Homo sapiens: one gene and its partner. The protein of the gene in region 1 purifies or fractionates together with the protein of each later gene. This does not show direct contact. Each region holds a gene or a part of one and is shown on either strand. Other genes may lie near its edges.

Region 1 (5,698 bases):
CCCTAGAATGGCTTGGGGCTTAGGGCTGGGGACTTGCCCTCCATGGAGGTCAGTGGGAGTTGCAGCTGTAAGGTGGCAGGGCCTACCCATCTTACAGAGGTGAAGACGAGGTCCCTCTGCCTCTGCTGCAGACATGGCGTCTGCACCCACCCTTCCACCCTCAGGGCCTGGCCACGGGGTCCTGGGTCCCCCACAATACTGTGCACTCGACCTGGTTGACCCAGGACACCCTCCTCGTTGAACAGCCCTGGCTACACCTGCTTCAGTGCAACTGGAGCCCTCACCGGCGAGTGCCTGACACCTCGGCCTTTTCTCTTCCGGAGGGGCGCTCCTCAGTGTGTTTGGGGTCTCCCTCGCTCCACGCCCTCCAGGGGGCCGCATGTGCACTTGCCCTGCATTGCCTGGCCCCCGAGGTTCCAGGGTCCCAACTGTCTACTAACCGGCTTCCCGACAGGGTGAGGGTGAGGTCGCATCTACAACCAGAGCCAGCGCTTCCCCGCCGCCACCCCTTTTCTTGGAATCCCGCTGCTTAGCTACCTGCGGGTGTCATTGGCCCCGCCCCATTTCCCCACGCTTTGAAGGGGGCGAGTCTCCACAGACCTCCTAGGGGGATAGACAGCAGCTGGTGTGACCCCACACACCCAGTGAGGTCTCTGGAGCCGCGGTGCGGGAAGCGGGGACCCGGGTTTGAATCCTGCCCCTCTGGTGTGGTGCGGCCTCTTCCCACAGACTTTTGGCCTCAGTGTTCCCCGCCTGGGAAGTGGGGACTGGCCCTGGTACCTGGCTCCAGAGCTGCACCCAGAGGCGATCAGCCCGGTGCGGGAACGGGGCGGGGTGGCCGCAACTACGGGCCACGGATCCTGACCCGCCCTGCCCACGATGACTATCCACATCCTCATCCTGCTGTTGCTCCTCGCCTTCTCCGCCCAAGGGGACCTGGACACTGCAGCCAGGTGAGAAACCCGGGTGGCAGCAGGGACAGGGCGGGAGGGAGACCGTAAAGGGCGAGCGCCCTCTCCCGGCCGCGGAACGGGCAGGTGATCTGTAAGCCTCCCCGCTGGTCTTGGAGTGCTTGGGTGCCCACCTCCATCACGCTCCATCTCTCAATTCGGTTTGAACCCGGTTTTCTCCCACGCTCCCTCTCCAGGCGAGGCCAGCACCAGGTCCCCCAGCACCGCGGGCACGTCTGCTACCTGGGCGTATGCCGGACCCACCGCCTGGCGGAGATCATATACTGGATTCGCTGTCTCCACCAAGGAGCCCTCGGGGAAGGCCAGCCACGAGCCCCAGGACCCCTACAGCTATGGGCGCCGCCGGTGGCGCGAGGCGGAAGCCCGGCTCGGTTCCCAGGATTCCGGCCTGCAGCGAGGGGGCTAGCGCAGTGCCCAGCTCGCTGGGTGACCTCGGGCACGGCTCGTCCCCTCCTCGGCTTCAGTTTGCCTATCTGTATGTTGGAGCTTCTACTCCACATTTCTTCTCCCCTAACTCCAGCCCCTGAAACCGTCTTCCCCAGTCCCTCCCCGGGCTGCGACTAGGTTGGACCTAGAAGCACACGGGACCAGGCTGGGCGAAGAACACTGACGCCCAGAGCCGAATAAACAAGAGTTCCGTGTTTCAGTCTCTGCTTCTCTGTACCTATTTCGACCTCTCAGTCGAGGCTGGGTCTCTAATATACCTTTCTCTATTAGCCATGCTGCTTCTCCCTCACGGAAGTCCCACTGTCTACCTTGAATCCAACCCGCTGTGGCGCCTTTCTTGCCAACTCAATCCATGCACCTTCCGTGGGTGGTTTTGGCGGGCCGTCCTGACCCCCAAACATCCCTCCTCCCTCCCTGGCGTGAAAGGGCTGAGATTTGCTCCGGCACCCTACGCGCCTGACGTTATAATGCACCTGGGGTGGGCTGCGACCTCCCAGCTGAGCCTTGTTCCTCGAAGAGACAGGAGACTAAGAGACAATGAGCTGAGTGAGGAGCCCAGGAACCCGGGTTCCGAACAGCTGCGTAGAATGCGAGCGGCCAAATGGTGGAGAATCTGGCCGGGTAAAAGGAGACGGAGGACTGGGGATCGAACGGATGTAGGGGATTGGACGCCGTGGCTCGAAGGGGGCGGGGATAGAACGCGGGGATTGGAAGGAGGCGGGGATAAAACCCGGGACCTGAATACCCGGCTAGGGACACGAGAGAGAGGAATCGGGGTTTCTGGGTGACGGTGATCTCGGGGTGGGCAGGACTCCAAAGGCCCGTCGACCCGGTGGTGGACTCCTTGCACTGGGATTGGACATATGCAAGCGGGAGATTTGGGGCCGGCGCTCAAAATCGGGGGGCGGGGGTGGACTCGGGTTTGGACCCCAGGATCCGATCAGCGGACCCTTGATTCAACGTGGTAAGTACTGGACCCCAGGGGCTCGGGCTCCGGCGGGGCCTGGAGTCCTGTGTCTAGGGTTGGGCGTGCAAGCCTCTCCATCACTTGTCCTCGACGCTCGCCTCCGCTCACAGCCTCAGCATCCCAGGCTGCGAGGCATGCGCAGTGGGTGCTTCCTTCCCCATTCCCTCCAGCACGGGCGGGGGGAGGGGACGCTGAGCGGATGAATTTATAGACACCATCCCCCTCGCCTTGGCATGAAAAGCGGCAATGGGGTGGACAGCGTCAATGTCTAACAGGTGTTTGTTTCATATGGGTCTAAAACTAATGCTTTTCTCAAGACCCCGCAACTCAGCCTGGACCAGTTTCCCTCCTCCACCCACCCCCGAATCTTGAGAATCCTGTACTGGGGGGAGGGCACTGCCCCCGCACCATGTTCTTGGGAGAGCAGGTAAAGGGGTTAACGCGAGCTATCCCTCTGGCCTCTCTATGCGTTCCCAGAGGTCCCGAATTGACGTCCTTCCCTCAAAACCTCCGGGTCTACAAACCAGGACCCTCAAGACCCTTCAGGTGCTTAGAGAAGGATGAGCTAGGTTATGTAGTCCTGGGTCGGCGCAAAAAGGCAGCTGAAAGCGTGAGATCCCGGGTCTGAGGGAGGAGGGGCTGGGGCCTGGGCTTCTGGGTCTGAGGGAGGAGGGGCTGGGGGCCTGGACTCCTGGATCTGAGAGAGGAGGGGCTGGGGCCTGGGCTTCTGGGTCTGAGGGAGGAGGGGCTGGGGGCCTGGACTCCTGGATCTGAGAGAGGAGGGACTGGGGCCTGGACTCCTGGGTATGAAGGAGGAGGAGGGGCTGGGGGCCTGGACTCCTGAGTCTGAGGGCGGAGGGGCTGGGGTCCTGAAGTATGACTCTGCCCGACTCAGGGCTCCAGCGTGACATGGCTGAAGCGCACCAGGCCGTGGGCTTCCGACCCTCGCTGACCTCGGACGGGGCTGAAGTGGAACTCAGTGCCCCTGTGCTGCAGGAGATCTACCTCTCTGGCCTGCGCTCCTGGAAAAGGCATCTCTCACGTTTCTGGGTGAGGAGCGGTGCTGGTCGGTTTCCTTCCGGGGATCCAGGTTTCTGCTTCCGGGATGTCTGAGGCTCACTTCCGGCATTTCAGCTGGTTCATTTCTGGGAGACTATCACCCCTTTTTCTTAGAATTTTGATGTCTGCTCCCAGGACCCCTTTAGCAATTTCTCCGTGGCTCACTTCTGGGATCCACAGCCCCACCTGCTGAGAACCTCTGCTCACTTCTTTCACCCAAGAGGGGAACTGGGCCCCCCAAAAACTACCCACTTCCAGTTTCTAGAACTCCATATCCTTCCCTTATGGTGAAATTATCATTTCTTCCTTTCATCTCCAGCTTCTTTTGTAGTTGTTGTTTCTGAGACACAGTCTCACTCTGTCGCCCAGGCTGGAGTGCAGTGGCGGGATCTCAGCTCACTGCAACCTCCGCCTCCTGGGTTCAAGCAATTCCCTGCCTCAGCCTCCCAGGTAGCCGGGATTATTGGCGCACGCCACCATGCCTGGCTTATTTATTTATTTATTTATGAGACAGAGTCTCACTCTGTTGCCCAGACTGGAATGCAGTGGGGTGATCTTGGCTCACTGCAACCACCTCCCAGGTTCAAGCGATTCTCCTGCCTCAGCCTCCCGAGTAGCTGGGATTACAGGCATGGATTATACGCCCAGCTAATTTTTGTATTTTTAGTAGAGACGGGGTTTCAACATGTTGGCCAGGCTAATCTCGATCTCCTGACCTCAAGTGATCTGCCTCCCAAAGCGCTTGGGTTACAGGAATGAGCCACCGCGCCCGGCCCAAACTCCTGCTCTGTCCCTGTTCTGGAATGCGCATGCCCAATGTGTAACCAGCACCCATGTCTGTCCCAGGGTTTCTGGTTCTAGAACTCTTGCACTGTCTCCATACAGGGACTCCCTGCTTGTCACATCCTCTGTGTGTGAACTGGGGTCTGGAACACCTGTGGGGTCATGATTGAGTTTGAATCCTGACTCCACCGCTTAGTAGCTGTGTCATCTTGGGCAAGCACCTCTCTTGGAGTCGCAGTTTCCCCTCGTGGAAAACATGGGTGTTGACAGCACCTCCCTCACAGGATAGCCTTGAAGACTAAATTAATTCTTCTATGTCCTGGCCCATGGCGAGGTCTGAGTGTTAGCTTCTGATATTGTTCTTCATTCATTCACCATATATTTATGGGGCATCCGGTAAGGGCCTGGCCCTCTTTAGCATGGAGAACACAGCAGATATCAACAGACAGAATCACGCCTGGGCACTGCGGGCTCACGGCTTTAATCCCAGCACTTTGGGAGGCTGAGGCAGGAGGATCACTTGAGCCCAGGACTTGGACACCAGCCTGGACAACATAGGGAGACCCCATCTCTATTAAAAAAATAAAGACAGGTCGGGCACGGTGGCTCATGCCTGTAATCCCAACACTTTGGGAGGCTGAGACGGACGGATCATGAGGTCAGGAGATCGAGACCCTTCTGGCTAACACGGTGAAACCCCGTTTCTACTAAAAATACACACACACACAAATTAGCCTGGTGTGGTAGTGGGTGCCTGTAGTTCCAATTACTCAGGAGGCTGAGGCAGGAGAATGGCGTGAATCCGGGAGGCGGAGCTTGCAGTGAGCCAAGATGGCGCCACTGCACTCCAGCCTGGGCGACAGAGCGAGACTCCGTCTCAAAAAAAAATAAAATAAAATAAAAAATAAATAAATAAATAAATAAATAAATAAATAAATAATAAAGACAGAATCCTGCTTTTATAGAGTTCTCATTCGAGTTGGGGGAGAAGGCAATAAAACAGATGAGCAAAACAGAAGGCAATAAAACAGATGAGCAAAATATAGGGTATGGTGACATTCTATAGTGTCATCTGATATTGATGGTGACACATGCTATGGTGAATGATAAATCGGGTAGAGAAGAGTGATGTGGGGGTGTTGCAGTTAAATAAGGGGGTGGCAGGCCAGGTGCGGTGGCTCACGCCTGTAATCCCAGCACTTTGGGAAGCCAAGGCAGACAGATCACGAAGTCAGGAGTTCAAGACCAGCCTGGCCAATATAGTGAAACCCCATCTCTACTAAAAATACAAAAATTAGCCGGGTGTGGTGGCAGGCACCTGTAATCACAGCTACCTGGGAGGCTGAGGCAGAAGAATCACTTGAATCCAGGAGGCAGAGATTGCAGTGAGCCAAGATTGCGCCACTGCACTCCAGCCTGGGTGACAGAGCAAGACTCCGTTTCAAAAAAAAAAAAAAAAAAGGGGGTGGGA
Region 2 (3,444 bases), on another chromosome or scaffold:
GGCTGGTCTCAAACTCCTGAGCGCAAGAGATCCTCCCACCTCAGCCTCCCAAAGTGCTGGGATTACAGGTGTGCGCCACCACACCTGGCCTCAGGAGGTGCCAGGAGGGTATAAATGGTGGGCCTCAAGAGCGTCATGTCAGAGGGTCTCCATCCTCAGGATGGAACCTCCTGGGGCACATCAGGCTCCTGGATAAAATGAGGGGTCCTCAATGCTCCTGTGGCTCCCCAATGTCATGTGAGGTCCCAGGGGCTTAATCCCTTTCCTGTCACCTTCCTGCTGCTGGTGGGGGTGGGCTCAGAGCCCCTCAGGGAGGAAAATCAGGTTGCTGGCTAGACCAGGAGGGTGTAGGCCACCAGGGCTCTCTCCAGAATTTGTCTGCTCGCTTCGCAAGATTTGCAGATGGTCCCCAATATTAAAGCAGCTTCCAAACACATCTGGACATCAAAGGGGACAAGATGCTCAGAAGTCAGGAAGAAGGCAGGACTCGGGCGACAGAGTTCAGAACTTGTGGTTTATTGACACTTCTGCATGGTGGGTCCTTGGGAGACTGCCTTTCTGGCATCTTGGGACTTGTCCCTAAGAATAGGGAAGACAGTCATCCTGTCCTGGAGCAAAGCTCCCCCTTGCACAGGAACACAACTCCCATGCAGGAGAAGCCCACCGAGACGAACGCAGATAAACCCTTCGCAAGGCCTGCACTGCACCGGAATGGCAGAGCTCCGTGCATTTGGCAAAGCTATGGAGCCTTGGCAGAATGCACAGGACTCTGGGGGCTGCCCCCCTTGAGCTACAGAGGCAGAATCGAACCAAAAACACTGCTTCCTTTAACACAGCCCAACTGGCTTACATTTAGCTTGGGACGAGGCTAGGCCTAAGAAGGGCCAGAGCTGTCCTCCCAGCCCTGGGAACACGGCTGAGACGGCCCGGTGCCCACGCTGGGCTCACCATAGGAGAGGAGAGGAGAGGGAGGGGGCCCCATACTGGCCCTGCCGTCTGCACCCCGTCCCTTTCCCCACTAAACACACCCATTTCCTATCCTGGGTTCTGAGGCTGGGACTGCCTCTGGGATTCTGAGGGACTGCCCTCCACCCCTGCAGGCCTGGGCTCAGAGTCAGCCACACCTGTAAGGCAGGCCCTGCTTCCCCAGCTTTTGTATTCCATATACGGTGCTGGCATGTGGAGCTCCATTCTTCTCCAGCCCACTTAATTTTAAGAATAGACACTAATAAGACTTAACCACCCCAACCTGCTGGCAGCAGGAGGGCCCCTGTGTGCTGGCAGCATCTCCCCAGGACACGCCGGCTCACCTGCACCCACAGCGTTCTAGGAGGTCGCGGCCTCTGCAGACTCAGTGCAACCCCTGGGCCTTACAAAAGGGACACTCAGAGGTGCACTGCCTGCTCAGCTCACACAAGGAACAAGTGGAGAGCTGGGCTGGAGAAAGGATTACAATTTACAGACCAGTGTCCCTGGCTAGGGGCCCTCATGGGACTGTGGCTGGAAGAGAAGGTCGCCCCGGAGGTTGGAGGCTGAAGACACCTGGTGCTTCTTGGTGCAGTCCTGGTCAAGATGGAAGAGCGCTCCTCTGTGCCCAGCTGCTGTGCAGGGGTGGACGAGGGCTCCCTCGGCCCCAAGGCAAGGGCGGAGCAGCTCCCAGTGCTGGCACCAGACCTCTGCCAGGCACGGGGCATGGCCATCCTCTGGGGTCCTGGCTCAGGGGTGGGGAGCGGCAGTGCTGGGACAAGCCTGGGGAAAGGGTTTCCCATACACTGAGGCTGCGAGATCTTCCAGTGGAGCCTCAGGCTAGGGTATGAATCAGACCACCAGGTGATAGGAGCCAAACCTCCACATGGTGAAACTTCACTCTCGGCAGCCAGGAACAGAATTATTAGCAAAGAAAAGAGAAAAGCAGATGCCAATCATTCTCTCTCTTCGTCAAGGTTATGCCCACGGGCAGGGTGGGCTAGTGGTGAGGGTGGAGCTGCGTCCCTGACCCCCAGAAGGAGACAGCAGGCCTTCAAGTTAAGCCAAGCAATACTTGGTCATTGTTTGTGGCCAACCATTCTCTGAATGTCTGAATGACAGCGACTATGTTTAAGGTTTTTTTTTGTAAATAAGAGACCTTAAGCAATGCATTGACTGCATGGTCTCAACCTCATCTGTGCTGTGAGAATGAGGGGTAAGGCTGGGCATGCAGGTAGGGCCCCAGCAAAGCTGGCTCCCCGCTCCCTGTGGGACAGAGGGCTCCCACCGGGAAGGCGGCTCTAGCGTGCCTCCTCGGCGAGCTGAGAGGAGGCCAAGGTGCTTGGGGCACAGCTGTGCAAACCTTCCTGGGGCTCTCGCTGTCTGCAGGTGGACTCTGAATGCCTTCATGGGGACCACACAGCCCAGCTTCCTCCCTTTCTCCTCTCCTCCCCCTGCACTGCTCTGACCTGCCTGGAGCAGCCCTGCCCACCTCCAGCTCAGCCCTTCCTGTGGCTTGGCCCTGCAGATGGCCTCTGAGTCCTCCCCTAGCCCCCTGCCCTCTTCCCTCTACCCGACACCCTCCCCCAGCCTTGCCACTTTCAACTTTGCACGCCCTCAGTGAGCTCCCTGAGGCACCCAGGATCGGTCACTTGTGAGCCCCCTCTCAGGGTGCACTAGGGGACGTGGAGCTCTCATGCCTGTTCAGGGCATGGGGCAGAGCAAGGCAGGCGTGCTGCCAGCCACCGCGGCAAGGTGAGGGGCTGTGGCCTGTGCCATGGACTCCCAGCAGCATCCCTGCTGCCTCCAGACTGAGACAGAGACCCACGGGCTGCCTCTGTGCTTGCCTGAGCCTCTTAATTAAGAGTCTTTCCCAATGAGACCAATTTGATTACAAATTCACAAGATATTTGGGAATGTTCCAATCACACAGCAGCAAGGTCCCTCTGCCTGGGATCCAGCCAGGCCCAAGGGGGTGGGAATGCAGGCAGATGGGCCAAGGTCACCCGGGATGCCCAGAGCCCCGCTGTCGGGCCCAGGCACCACTACGTGGCAGTCGCAGCTCCTGCCAGTCACCTGGGCAGCGGGGGGAGGGGAGAACCTTGGGGGTGTTCAGCATCACAAAGAGGCGGAAAACTCTTCCAGAAAGATCTCACCAAAATCATGCCTCCCTAACAAAACAAATCCTGCTTTTCTAAAAACCTCAATGGGCCTATCCGAGCCCACTGCAGTCCTAGTTTCTTCAAAGCTGTGTAAGGCACTTGAATGGCTTATTAACACCACCTGGAAAAGTTCCTGTTTCAATCCTGATTTAGAAAATAAATTCAATAATACTGCAAAAAAAGGTTCCTTGAAAAATAGCTTTAAAAAAGTAAATACTTAAGTTTTCTAAAGAATAAAATAAATGCTAAGCTCTGCTTAAATTATATGACACAACAGGTCATCTTGGCACTGATAAAACAAAGAGAAAACCTGGAA

The links. The genes of interacting proteins can lie anywhere in the genome.
Region 2: the proteins of CPT1C (region 1) and PPM1F purify together in Homo sapiens (affinity purification with mass spectrometry; one large-scale study listed by BioGRID and IntAct). This does not show direct contact.

The regions. Positions count from the first base shown.
Region 1 is NC_000019.10:49,688,959-49,694,656, forward strand, and holds the start of CPT1C (palmitoyl thioesterase CPT1C), read left to right. Parts: upstream 1-2,157; 5' UTR 2,158-2,382; intron 2,383-2,537; exon of another isoform or gene 2,538-2,660; intron 2,661-2,702; exon of another isoform or gene 2,703-2,812; intron 2,813-2,862; 5' UTR 2,863-2,931; exon of another isoform or gene 2,932-2,995; intron 2,996-3,280; 5' UTR 3,281-3,294; coding exon 3,295-3,435; intron 3,436-5,698. Other genes in the region: ADM5 (putative adrenomedullin-5-like protein precursor), read left to right, coding at 880-953, 1,148-1,535. UniProt on the Homo sapiens protein: Palmitoyl thioesterase specifically expressed in the endoplasmic reticulum of neurons. Modulates the trafficking of the glutamate receptor, AMPAR, to plasma membrane through depalmitoylation of GRIA1.
Region 2 is NC_000022.11:21,918,925-21,922,368, forward strand, and holds the end of PPM1F (protein phosphatase 1F), read right to left. Parts: 3' UTR 501-3,444; downstream 1-500. UniProt on the Homo sapiens protein: Dephosphorylates and concomitantly deactivates CaM-kinase II activated upon autophosphorylation, and CaM-kinases IV and I activated upon phosphorylation by CaM-kinase kinase. Promotes apoptosis.